Linked DNA regions of Homo sapiens. The protein of the gene in region 2 purifies or fractionates together with the protein of the main gene of each other region. This does not show direct contact. Each region holds a gene or a part of one and is shown on either strand. Other genes may lie near its edges.

Evidence for each region.
Region 1: the proteins of PBRM1 (region 2) and BCL7A purify together in Homo sapiens (affinity purification with mass spectrometry; 4 studies listed by BioGRID and IntAct, with this or other methods). This does not show direct contact.

Annotation. Positions count from the first base shown.
Region 1 is NC_000012.12:122,052,599-122,059,883, reverse strand, and holds part of BCL7A (B-cell CLL/lymphoma 7 protein family member A), read right to left. Parts: intron 5,080-7,285; coding exon 4,958-5,079; coding exon of another isoform or gene 4,895-4,957; intron 793-4,894; coding exon 721-792; 3' UTR 1-720.
Region 2 is NC_000003.12:52,544,771-52,550,102, forward strand, and holds the end of PBRM1 (protein polybromo-1), read right to left. Parts: intron 3,466-5,332; coding exon 3,293-3,465; 3' UTR 597-3,292; downstream 1-596. UniProt on the Homo sapiens protein: Involved in transcriptional activation and repression of select genes by chromatin remodeling (alteration of DNA-nucleosome topology). Required for the stability of the SWI/SNF chromatin remodeling complex SWI/SNF-B (PBAF).

The DNA.
Region 1 (7,285 bases), on a different chromosome or scaffold from region 2:
CGAGTGCCCAGCCTGATCCAAGGGGCCGAGCCCTTGGGGACTGTGCCCCAACACCTGCGCGTCCTTGGGCCCTGGTGCCTGGTGCTTGGGGCGTGCCTAAGGTCCCCCTGCACCTGCAAACCAGGTGGGCTAAGGAGCTCCTTCGCTCCACCCTGCCTGCTCCGATGAAGTCCTGGGGCAGGGAGGAGAGCGGTGAGTAGGGTGGCAGCCGCCGCCCGAACCAAACCAAGAGGGCACTTTGCAGAGGGGGATGTAAGAACCACCAGGATACATGCCAGAGGTCACCTCAAGGGCACAAGGCACAAAAAAAGAAAGCGGAAGGAATCGGTTGAACAGTGGAAAGCCCCGCCAAAAAGCGTTCCTGATCGGTACCACCCTCCGATAGCTTATATCGTTACATAGAGAAGTGGGGGGAAAATACAGCAGCAACACAAATGGAATCCTGGCTTCCGAGACAGTGTGCAGACACTCCTGAGCTGTCAGCCCCGCCTGCCTCCCCAAGGACAGTCCCTTAAAGGTTTGAGTGTTTTGCTTCACAGCAGAGTTCTTCAGTGTCTGAGAAGTGACGCCGTTCTGGGTCTTCTTGGATTTGCACTTGGTAAACTTGAAACGTTAGTAGTTCTGTTCGCACCCAAGAGGAATCGCTGGGGCAAAGTTGCTCTAGAATTAATTGCTGATGTACCTTCCATGGAACATGGATCGGAGGCTTTAAAGCATCGTCTACATCTCTTCGGAGTTTTGTTGAGAGGCCTCCAGTTTCATCTTTTTAGAGGGTGGCACTCCTTCCAAATCCTTGGGGAGAGGAGAAAAGGGGAACACAGGTTAATGGGCCAGGAGAGCAAGTTAGGCCAGGCGTGAGGCCGAAGGTCAGCCAAGGAAGGAACCGAGCGGGGGCGGCTTTGTGGTTCAGACCAGCAGTTCCAGACCCGAGGCCCAAGCGTGGACTCCAGAGAGTTTGAGGACCTATGGAGACCCTCACACCCAAACTCTTCCTGGAGCTATGGAGCGCGGTGTCCCCTGGCCCCTGCCTGACCCTATCACATGCCAATGGCTGGTAACTCGGGAGCATTTCCTACACTGCTGCCTTGGACCCTAGGCTCTCCCCACTCATTCAGACTGGACCAGAAGTTGCTGTTATCAATCTTCCCATCTATGATTCATTGCTAGGGTGATTACTTGTGATTATTGTTTCAAGTTCACCTTTCCAAGTTCTTGTTTTTGTTGTTGAGATGGAGTCTCACTCTGTTGCCAGGCTGGAGTGCAGTGGGGCAATCTTGGCTCACTGCAACCTCCGCCTCCTGGGTTCAAGTGATTCTCCTGCCTCAGCCTCCCAAGTAGCTGTGATTACAGGCACGCGCCACCATGCCCGGCTAATTTTTGTATTTTTAGTAGAGACGGGGTTTCACCATGTGGGCCAGGCTGGTCTCAAACTCCTGACCTCAGGTTATCTGCCCACCTCGGCCTCCCAGAGTGCTGGGATTACAGGTGCACACCACCATGCCTGGCTAATTTTTTGTATTTTTGGTAGAGACAGGGTTTCACCATGTCTCCATGTTTCACCATGTTGGCCAGGCTGGTCTCAAACTCCTGACCTCAGGTGATCTGCCCGCCTCACCTTCCCAGAGTGCTAGGATTACAGGCGTGAGCCACCGCACCAGCTTTTCCAAGTTCTTTTTATAATTTTTTTTAGAGACAGAGTCTTGCTTTGCTGCTCAGGCTGGGGTGTAGTGGTCATCATAGCTCACTGCAGCCTCGACTTCCTGGTCTCAGAGGATCCCCCTGCCTCAGCCTCCTGAGTAGCTGGGACTATATGCATGTGCCACCATGCCCGGATGATTTTTTTTTTTTAAGTTTTTTGTAGAGATGGGGTCTTGCTATGCTGCCCAGGCTGGTCTTGAACTCCCGGGCTCAAGGGATCCTCCTGCCTCAGCCTCCCAAACTGCTTGGATTACAGGTGTGAGCCATGATGCCTGGCAATCTCTGCAAGTTCTAGGCCATCTCCCAGAGGCCCAGACCCACTCTGCCATGTAGACTCCTGCTCCTGCAGGGCTGGGCACAGTGCCTGGTCTGGGCTGGACTCTCAGCATTTGCTGGGTATACACATATGTGTGTGTGTTATTCTGGGGGAAAGGGTCTGTAGTTGTCACTGAATTCCCATGAAACCCAGGACACCAGAAAAGGTTTAACACTCACTCATCCATCACACAATTGTCTTGGGCCTCTCAAACCTAACCTGTCACCTGAGACCAAACTCCTGACCGCAGCCATCCTAACTGGTGCTCCCCATCAGCCTGGGAGAAAGACCCAGGCCTGGACACCCCCTGAAGCCACCTCTCCGCCCGCACCCCCCCTCCAACCCGGCCTCTGGCCTGGCTGATGGAGCAGCCTGCTTGTGGCCAACAGGATGGCCCCAGCAACCTTCCTCCAATAGAAACCACAACTTACAAATACAAAGCATTCCACAACTTTCCTACTGACTTCTGAACAAACCCAGTTCCTCACCAGGACCAAGAAGGCCCTAGTGACAAGCCTGGCCCACTTCTTCCCTCATCAGACCATTCTCTTCCTCACCCACCAGGTTCTGGCCTCCCCGGCCACCCTGGCCTCTCTTTCGTTCTTCAAGCTGGCTCCTGTCTTGAGGTCTCTGCACCTTGGTCTGCCCCTGCCTGGAGAGCTCACCGTCCCAGCCTGGGCCCCCTTCATGTCCGGCTCACAGCCAGCCCCTCCCTGCTGACGCCAGCCACAGCACCCTCTACCCATGGCCTGTTCTGCTTCTTCACGTCACCCTGTTTCACTCTCTCACGGCACTTAGTGGGACTCTGTGACCTACTTGTGTCTGCTTATCCTGAGCCCATTGTCAGCCCCACTGTGGCAGGCAGGGATTAGGTATAGCCCCTGGTCCATGGTGGGTTCTCAGAGATAAATGTTGCAGAGGAGAGGCCTCGAGTAGGACATGCGATGGACTTGCAGAGACAGTGACATGAGCCCCTTCTGGGGGACCCTGGGAGCAGGGATCGCAGGGAGTCAGGAAGGCTACCTTTCTGTCCTTTCTCTCCTTTTTTCTGTATTTATTTTTTTGAGACAGGGTCTTGCTCTGTCACCCAGGCTGGAGGGCAATGGTAGGATCATAGCCCACTGCAGCCTTGAACTCTCAGGCTCAAGCAATCCTCCCGCCTCAGCCTCCAGAGTAGCTGGGACTATAGGAGCGCACCACCATGCCTGGCTAATTTTCTTTTTCTTTTTGTTGGAGAGACGGGGTCTTGCTATGTTGCCCAGGCTGGTCTCGAACTCCTGGCCTCAAGTGATCCACCTGCCTCAGCCTCCCAAAGTGCTGGGCTTACAAATGTGAGCCACTGCACCCGGCCAAAAACGTATTGCTTGAAATGTCAGGCTGTCTGCTTTACTGGAGTACATCCTCCATGTCACTCACACACCTAGCTCTGTGGACAATATGTGTGTCGGTGTGCCTGTGAAAATGGTGGAAGAGGCCCAATTTTAGGTCTGGGTCTCCTGGAAGCAAGAGTGTGGGGTAGTGGGGGCGATGTGAGAATGGGGGACTCCTGGCATTTCCAGGTACTGCGGGGGAGCATTGGATACTCTCAGGGTATGGATCAAAGTTTCAAGCTGAGCTTTTCTTCTCTGAGATCAAGAGGCCCAGAGATCCCAGCCGACAACTTTGGTCTTAATATAAATCACCAGGCTTTGGTTTCTACTGTTTTTAACCAGATGGGCTCATGCTACGCCTGCGGATCTGCAGCTTGCTTTTCTCACTGCACGCTGCAAGAATGTTTATCAGAACCTGGAAGGCACAACCATGCTCTTCTAGATGGCTGCGCCCTAGTCTGTCTCAGACAAGACCCCAGATTTCCCTAAGCAGCCCCTTAGAGCTAGGGCATGTGGAGGGGGTTCCATGGGGTGAGGTTCTGGAAAGGGACCTGCCAATCAAAGGGTTTAAAGATTTTGAAGTTGCCAGGCGCAGTGGCTCACGCCTGTAATCCCAGCACTTTGAGAGGCTGAGGGAGTGGATCATTTGAGGTCAGGAATTTGAGACCAGCCTGGCCAACATGGTGAAACCCATCTCTACTAAAAATACAAAAATCAGCCAGGCAGAGTGGTAGGCACCTGTAATCCCACCTACTTGGGAGGCTGAGGCAGGAGAATTGCTTGAATCCAGGAGGTGGAGGTTGGAGTGAGCCGGGATCATGCCACTGCACTCCAGCCTGGGTGACAAAGTGAGACTCTGTCTCGAAGGAAAAAAAGTCTAGAGGATTTACAGTGAAAAATCCTAATAGTGGTCATGGCCAATGACACCTCTGCATCTTGTGTCCGCTCCATGCTAAGTGTTTTACCCAAGTTCTCCCATCGAATCCTCACGGTGGCCCTAAGACAGTTCCGTGATCCCATTTTGGGAGCTGGGATTCAAACTTGGGCCCGACTCTGGGAGGTTTGCTCCTAACCACCGGGCCCCACTGCACCTGTGCTGACTCATTCAGACCAGATTCCAACACAGAGTGATGCCCTGGAGAGGGGCCCATGCAGTGCAAGTGGGGCCAGCAGCACCGCTCCGTCGGAGGCCCCACCACTTAGGTTTCTGAAGTCTTGTCTTCCCAGCTCTAAAGGTCACCGATCTGGGGATCACTGAGATGAGGCAATGCCTGTGTGAACCTGAACAGACAAAACGTAGCAGCCGAGGCTGGGTTCAAGGTCCCTTCATCCTCCTCCGACCCAGAGGCTCCTTGAGGGCAGAGGCCACAAGTCTCATTATCCCTCGGCCCCAGAGCCCAAGGCAGAGCCCAGGACTGTGTTCATGGACATAGCCCAATGGACAAATGACAGTTCCAATGGTCCAACGACAAAACAACAAAACACAATGACGAAACACCTTTCAACGTACCCCCGACAACCCAATGGGCTCCCGGCCGATCTGGCTGCCCCTCTGAGACCTCGAGCGAGGTACCTGAGAGATTGCAGACGTCTCTGCGGCCAGACCCGAGTCTCCAGACGGCTGCCGATCTACTTTCTCTGAGCTGTTCATCGAATGTTCCATCGAGGACTGTGAATTCTGCTCATCAGAAGCATCTGAGGGAAGAGCAAGACGACAGGAGCTGTTTTCAGACACGTGAGAGGCGGGGCCGGTGGGGCCAAATACTGAAAATACCTTGAATCGGGTAGTTTTGGGGCCAGTGGTCTTTGAAGGCTACAATGAGCTGGGGGGCTGGAGGGCTGGGGAGTCTCCTGTTGATTTTTCAGTGGCGCTGTTTCCAGCAGCCAGGTCACACACGGACCCTGGCGTCTGCAACCCTCTCCTGCACACTTAGCTGCTGAGGGCCCTGGGAGGCGACTGGAGGAGGCTGCAGTCTCTGTGCTGCGTGCACCCAGCACCCCCTGGCGGCCGCAGTGCGCACCAACAATCATGGCTGTCAATTCCTCTCTCCCGCAGCCAAGGTGGCTTCGTCCTAACCTTTTGTAAACATTTCTCTTAATAATATGGGTATTTGGCCGGGCACGGTGGCTCAGGCCTGTAATCCCAGCACTTTGGGAGGCCGAGGCTGGCGGATCACGAGGTCAGGAGATCGAGACCATCCTGGCTAACACGGTGAAACCCCGTCTCTACTAAAAATACAAAAAATTAGCCGGGCGTGGTGGCGGCGGGCGCCTGTAGTCCCACCTACTCGGGAGGCTGAGGCAGGAGGATGGCGTGAACCCGGGAGGCGGAGGTTGCAGTGAGCCGAGATCGCGCCACTGCACTAAAGCTTGGGTGACAGAGCGAAACTCCGTCTCAAAATAATAACAATAATAAGGGTATTTTTCCGATTGCCAGAGCAATGACTGACCATTGCAGGAAACAGAAAAGTACAGAAAAAATAAAGTTAAAAATCACCTGTCACCACCCAGGGACCACCCCACTAATGTTTTAGAGGATTAATTCCCGTCTTTCCAGTTTCCCCTCCCTCCATGCGTACAAATTTTCTCCTCTTCCCAAATGGGGGTCATGTGGTATTTCGGAGGAATTCTTCATGTCTTTAAAGGTTCTTTAAATATCACAGCTTACAAGATGGCCGCACACCATTCCATCAAGGAATCGCCAGTAGAATGAACCCAGTTATTCGGGTGATTTCTCATGCCTGTCTTCCTGCTGCTCCACCCCAAGTTTTCTTTAGCAGAAGGAAGGTGCAGGCTGGATGGGGCGGGGGGGTGGGTGCAGCTTGGGAGGAGGCAGTGGCGGCAGCGGTTTTTCCTAAAGCTTACTGGACACAGAGCCAGACACTCGTGAAGGGGCAGCAAAAATCCTACCCGAGGCCCGGACACCATGGTACCCTGATGTTAAAAAGCACACACGAAACGAATCCTAGAGAATGCCTGTGCGACCAAGACTTCCCTGCTGGGGTTTCTGAGGCAGAGTAATAACAAAGGGGAAAATAACCCATGCTTAAGTTTAAAAGCAAGCAGGCAAGATGGGAAGAAGAAGGAGACAGTGCAGGGCCTGGGACAGGCCGGGACACAGAGGGCGGGGGAACGGGACAGCAAGACCCTCCTTCCCAGGGAGTCTGAGCAGGGTTGACACTTACTTCTCAGACTAGGAGCCCTGGCCGGGCGCGGCGGCTCACGCCTATAATCCCACCACTTTGGGAGGCCAAGGCAGGCGGATCACTTGAAGTCAGGAGTTCAAGACCAGCCTGGCCAACATGGTGAAACCCCGTCTCTACTAAAAATACAAAAATTAGCCAGGCATGGTGGTGCACGCCTGTAATCCCAGTTACTCGGAGGCTGAGGCAGGAGAATCGTTTGAACCCAGGACCACCTCCTGGATTGGGAGCCGAGATCATGCCACGGCACTCCAGCCTGGGCGACAGAGTAAGACTGTCTCAAAAAACGACAACAACAACAAAAACAGGCTAGGCACGGTGGCTCACGCCTGTAATCCCAGCACTTTGGGAGGCTAAGGTGGGTGGATCGGCTGAGGTCAGGAGTTTGAGACCAGCCTGGCCAACATGGCAAACCCCCCCCCCCCCCCGACTAAAAAAATACAAAAGTAAGCCAGGCGTGGTGTCGCGCGCCTGTAATCCCAGCTACTTGGGAGGCTGAGGCAGGAGAATCCCATAAACCCAGGAGGCGGAGGTTCCAGTGAGACAAGATCATGCCACTGCACTCCAGCCTGGGTGACAGAGTGAGACTCTGTCTCCAAAACAAAACAAAACAAAAAACAAAACAATAAAAAAACAAAAAGAAAGAAAACATTATGCTGAGTGAGAAGTCAGACACAAAAGGCCACAGAGTATATGAT
Region 2 (5,332 bases):
TGTCTAGCTATACATCAATGATTGTTCAAAATATGCTCAGGGGCACAGATGCCGGTACTATCCTAAATTCAGGAGAACAGAACCACAGGGATTTGCAAAGTGATATTAGAGGAAAACAGTTGGTTGCTTTTACCAACACTTTCTATTAAAAGCATGGTCATGTTTTAAGAGTTTATAAAGATGTTAAAGACACCTGGGCCACCTGTTTCTTCTGGCCACAGACAAGCTATTTGAAGTGGGCTATACTGCTTACATGCTTTCCTCACTTTCCGCCCTCAGTAATTCTCCAATTTTAATTTCAACCTGCATTTCTGCCCATGCTGAGGACATGTAGGAATTCCTTGACTGCCAGCCTGAGGCGTGGCGTGGGGCACTTCAGTCTGCAGTCTGACTACATTTGGCTCTGTGTTAATGCAGCCCGAGCCCTGAACCAGAGGTCTGGACACTGACTTTCATCTCCATCTGTGGAGCTTTGTTCTCTTAAATTGGCAGTCACATACAACCTTGTCAGCATGAAATCAGGGCTTGCAGGAGTTAAATCTGCTTGAAACATCTGACACCACTTTAACAGAACAACCAAACCTGGTTAATCCAAATCACTTTGCAAACTCTGTATTTATTTGGATTAAAAAGCTTTAGATGAACAACAAAAAAAAGATACATACATGTTATAAGACTAGTTACCACGTAAACCTCAGATGATATGATACAGAAATTAGAATAAACCAAGTTTTAATCAGGTATGAAAACATTCAAGCTCAAAATCATCAACACCAATTTGGGGATTTTACAGAAATAGGTGCCCCTCTCAATTCTTCCTCATAGGAAGGGGAGAGTGGCTTAAAAAAAAAACAACAACCAAAACAGTTAAAGGCCTTTTAAATCAGTTGGCTGACAAACATACTGTTTTAAACCTACAGGTTCCCCTCAGTCCCCCCGTTTGCAATATAAACAATTCTTCTCCACAGGAACTTACATTTTGAAAACATTTAGGCCATTATACTTTCTAAGCCACATTACTACAGTTCCTAAAACTTATGAAAAAAAGGTGTATAGTTTACTTGTACTTTCTTGAGTCAATTTTTTTTTCTTTTTTGAAGATGGCTGACCTCAAATCTTATATCCTAAATATTAACGATATCCCCCAAGTTAATATACAGAAAAACATGATTCTAAAATAAATACACAGGCTTTTTAAAAAAAACTTAATTAGGGCCTGTCTAGTGATGCCCTGGGCCGGTGCTGCACTGCTTTAGGGAAGCCCCTGGCTGGATCTATGTTTCCTATAGCACCTCTAGGCACTGGGAAGGAGCCTGGAGGAGAGCTCTGGCTTCTAATGACCCACGTGGCCCCCAGTGAAAAATTTTTTTAGAGGCTCCCCAAAGAAGTCTCATCCAGACCTTAAGGGAAATAAAATGAATGCATGAAATAAATAAATAATTTAACCACAACTAAATTTCATGTTCTTTGGTGTAATTCAAGGATGTCTAGAAACAAAATAATCTGATTGCATTATACAGTCCATGATGATTCAATTGCCCAAATAGCCAGGAATTGAAGATTTATCTGACTCACTTTAACAATAAGGTACTGACACACTACTGCAATACATTTTTTTAAATTCAATATTATTTAAAATACTTGATGCAAATTCAAATCCAGTGGTTGACTAAAGGCAATTAAGTTAAAGGGCCTCCCATATTTAAAGTATCTAGATACAAGAGACTTTTTTCCATTCTACACTCTTTTGCCCTCATGATTTAATAAGTACAGTAATTAAACATCTGGGTACTGATTCATAGCAGATTAAAAGGAAAAAAGCATCCTCTGAGATTAACTCTCTCAGATTATAAACAGCAGTGGAAGCTCTACCACAATGGCAATCACCCAGTTACTATAAAGCAGGTTTCAAAAACATGCCGCCAAGTGAAACAATGTTCCTACTGTCTGCCATCCTATGCTGCCTTCAAATGTTTATTGTAGGGTCATATAAGAAAGACAGGGTCACCAAACCCAAGTGTTTGGGATCTGTAATGGTCTTTCTAGTAAGCGTTTTATTAAATTATGATTCCCTTCTCCTGTAATTCAAAAGCACAAGCTAAATTTAAAAAATATTTTAGAAAGTATTAAATTTCTGGTTGAGAATTATAACAACATTGAAACTTAAAAGAAAAAATACATCTGATAATAAGGAAATAAGGAATACTAAAACATACTTGTATATGAAGGCAATCAATCTACTTGTTCACAATTATGCTTCTTATACAGCTCATATCTAGTTCCATACTCTCTTACCCATGTTAGGTTAGGTGTTATGTTTAAAAATAAATCACCTCCATGCATACCTTAATGCTTTCTTCAAGACGAACTTCAATGTTTTTCAATGTAACAGGTTTAAAATTTTAAATCATCTGAAATTTATAGGCATAAATTGTGAATTCATTATAAATAGATCAAAATATCCTTAAACGTACCTGCCTAGATTAAACATACCTCAGGGTTGTGCACGTGTTCTGCAAAAATCACTGACACCATAGTCTAACTCACAGATGTCTAACTCAGCACAATTGAAAAAGTGCTTTTTCCCCTCCTGGTGTCCAGGAGGTACATTAGCTGCAGACAGATGCACAGCACTGATTACATATTTCTGTAGTGAGCCTCTGAGTTAATAGAGCAAATGTGCTGTGTCTATTAAACATCTAAAACCTAAATAACCACCTTTCAAAGAAAGCACTTCATCTGTAAGAAACAGCTTTTGCAGAAAGTGGCTTAAGATATTCAGGCACATGAAACAAACACAAGTATACTCCCCTCTCTAAGATGTAAACTAGGACAAACTTCACATTTCATTATCAATTTAAACTAATCTGTAAACTCTTGTGTGTGTGTGTTTTTTTTCATTTTGTTCTTTTATATATATATATAAAAAAACCCAAAACCAAGAAAACAAAAACCCCAAGCCAAGACAAAAACCTCTAATGGTTTCAGTTCCATGGCAACAAGTAAAAAGATAAAACTCCAAGTCTACATATACAACCAATTATGAAACTGGTTTTAAACGAAGGAAACATATGCAAAAAAATCTTTGTGTATTTGATAAAGTCAACTTAATATAACAAACAAATTGAAATAGCTTATTAAAAGTGTCCGTATATAAAAATGGCCTTGTGATGTACAGTAAAATGCAATAAAAATTATCCTCCTTTGTTCCTTCCCCCCACCCCCAGTAACTAAAATGGCTACTGATCCACAACTCTTTATGCTTCTATATAAAAGAAACGTAATGATGTGATTAAACATTTTCTAGGTTGTATGCTTGGCGAATGTTGAGGGTGTCCCGGAGCATCAAATCTCGAAGGCGCCAGAGGGCATCTGCCATGGTGGTGTGGGCCCCTTTGCTTTTCAGCCAGTGAGAGGGTAGGCGGCTCTCCTGTTCTTTCGACAAATGGACGTCGCGTCTTCGAGCTGAAAATTAAAGTACAGAGAGACAGAAATTAGAATTTTAAGTTGGCAAAATTTCCCTCAGTTCTAAGGTCTGACGAACTTATTAAAACACAAAACATTGAATATTTATTAAATATTATGAATTTTAACTGCAGAATATTTCCAGGCACATTTCTTATATCATTTTACTAGGCACTAAAAGATTTGATCATAAATTTTTTTTTTTTTTTGACATCGAGTCTCGCTCTGTCGCCCTCGCTGGAGTGCAGTGGCGCGATCTCAGCTCACTGCAACCTCTACCTCCTGGGTTCAAGCGATTCTCCTGCCTCAGGCTCCAGAGTAGCTGGGATTACAGGAATCTGCCACCAAGCCTGGCTGATTTTTCTATTTTTAGTAGAGACAGGTTTCACCATGTTGGCCAGGCTGGTCTTGAACTCCTGACCTCAGGTGATCTGCCTACCTTGGCCTCCCAAAGTGCTGGGATTACAGGTGTGAGCCACTGCACCCGGCCTGATCATTATTTTTTTGTAGGCATCCCTGATATTTAATAATTACTTCAATGTTAACAAAAATTCCTAAAAAGGTAAACATGTGAAGAAAGGGAAAATATACCTTCTACTCTAAAGAAATGAAATGAGATGACCAAAGTTGGTTTAGAAATCAAGAACAAGTAGAAACTTCCAAACTTCTCTCCAGAAACTACACAAGTACTTTAGTACATACTGAAAATACATAAGTATGTTGAACTAAATGAATAGCCTAATCGGTTTCTAATATTTTTTTCCTTTTGTTAAACTGAGGTAAAATAGTTTTTTTTTTTTTTTTAGACAGAGTCTTATTCTGTCACCCAGGCTGGAGTGCAGTGGTGCGATCTTGGCTCACTGCAACCTCCACCTCCGGGTTCAAATGATTCTCGTGCCTCAGCCTCCCAAGTAGCTGGGATTACAGACACCAGACACCACGCCCAGCTAATTTTTGTATTTTTAGTAGAGATGGGATTTCACCATGTTGGCCAGGATGGTCTTGATCTCCTGACCTCAAGTGATCTGCCCGCTTCAGCCTCCCAAAGTGCTGGGATTACAGGCGTGAGCCACCGCTCCTGGCCCTCATCTGGCTAATTTTTAATTTTTTTGTAGAGACGGGGTTTTGCCATGTTGTCCAGGCTGGTCTCAAACTCCTGAACTCAATCGATCTGTCCACTTCAGCCTCCCAAAGTGGGAGCCACCGTGCCTGGCCAATAATTTTTAATTTACCCAATGCATCTATACTAATGTCCAAATGCCTGAAAAACAAAACAAAACAAAACAAAACAACAAACAAAAAACAATGTACTTAAAAAGATGGCAGTGATGTTTATGAGAAAACTAGGCTTTGAAATTTGGCAAAAAAAACCACAACAACACTTTTAGGCAGGGCGCTGTGACTCATGCCTATAATCCCAGCTCTTTGGGAGGCTGAGGTGAATAGATCACCTGAGGTCAGGAGTTCGAGACCAGCCTGGCCAAAACGGCGAAACCCCATCTCTACTAAAGATAAAAAAATTAGCTGGGCGTGGTGCTGAGCACCTGTAATTCCAGCTGCTCAGGAGGCTAAGACACAAGAATCGCTTGAACCTGGGGGTCGGAGGTTGCAGTAAGTCGAGATTGTACCACTGCACTCCAGCCTGGGCGACAGAGTGAGACTGTCTCAAAAAAAAAAAAACAACCCAAAAACCATTTTCAGGCCAGGCACAGTGGCTCACGCCTGTAATCCCAGCACTTTGAGAGGCCGAGGCAGGTGGATCACTTGAGGTCAAGAGTTTGAGACCAGCCTGGCTGATATGGTGAAACCCCATCTCTACTAAAAATATAAACATTAGCCAGGTGTGGTGGCATGTGCCTGTAATCCC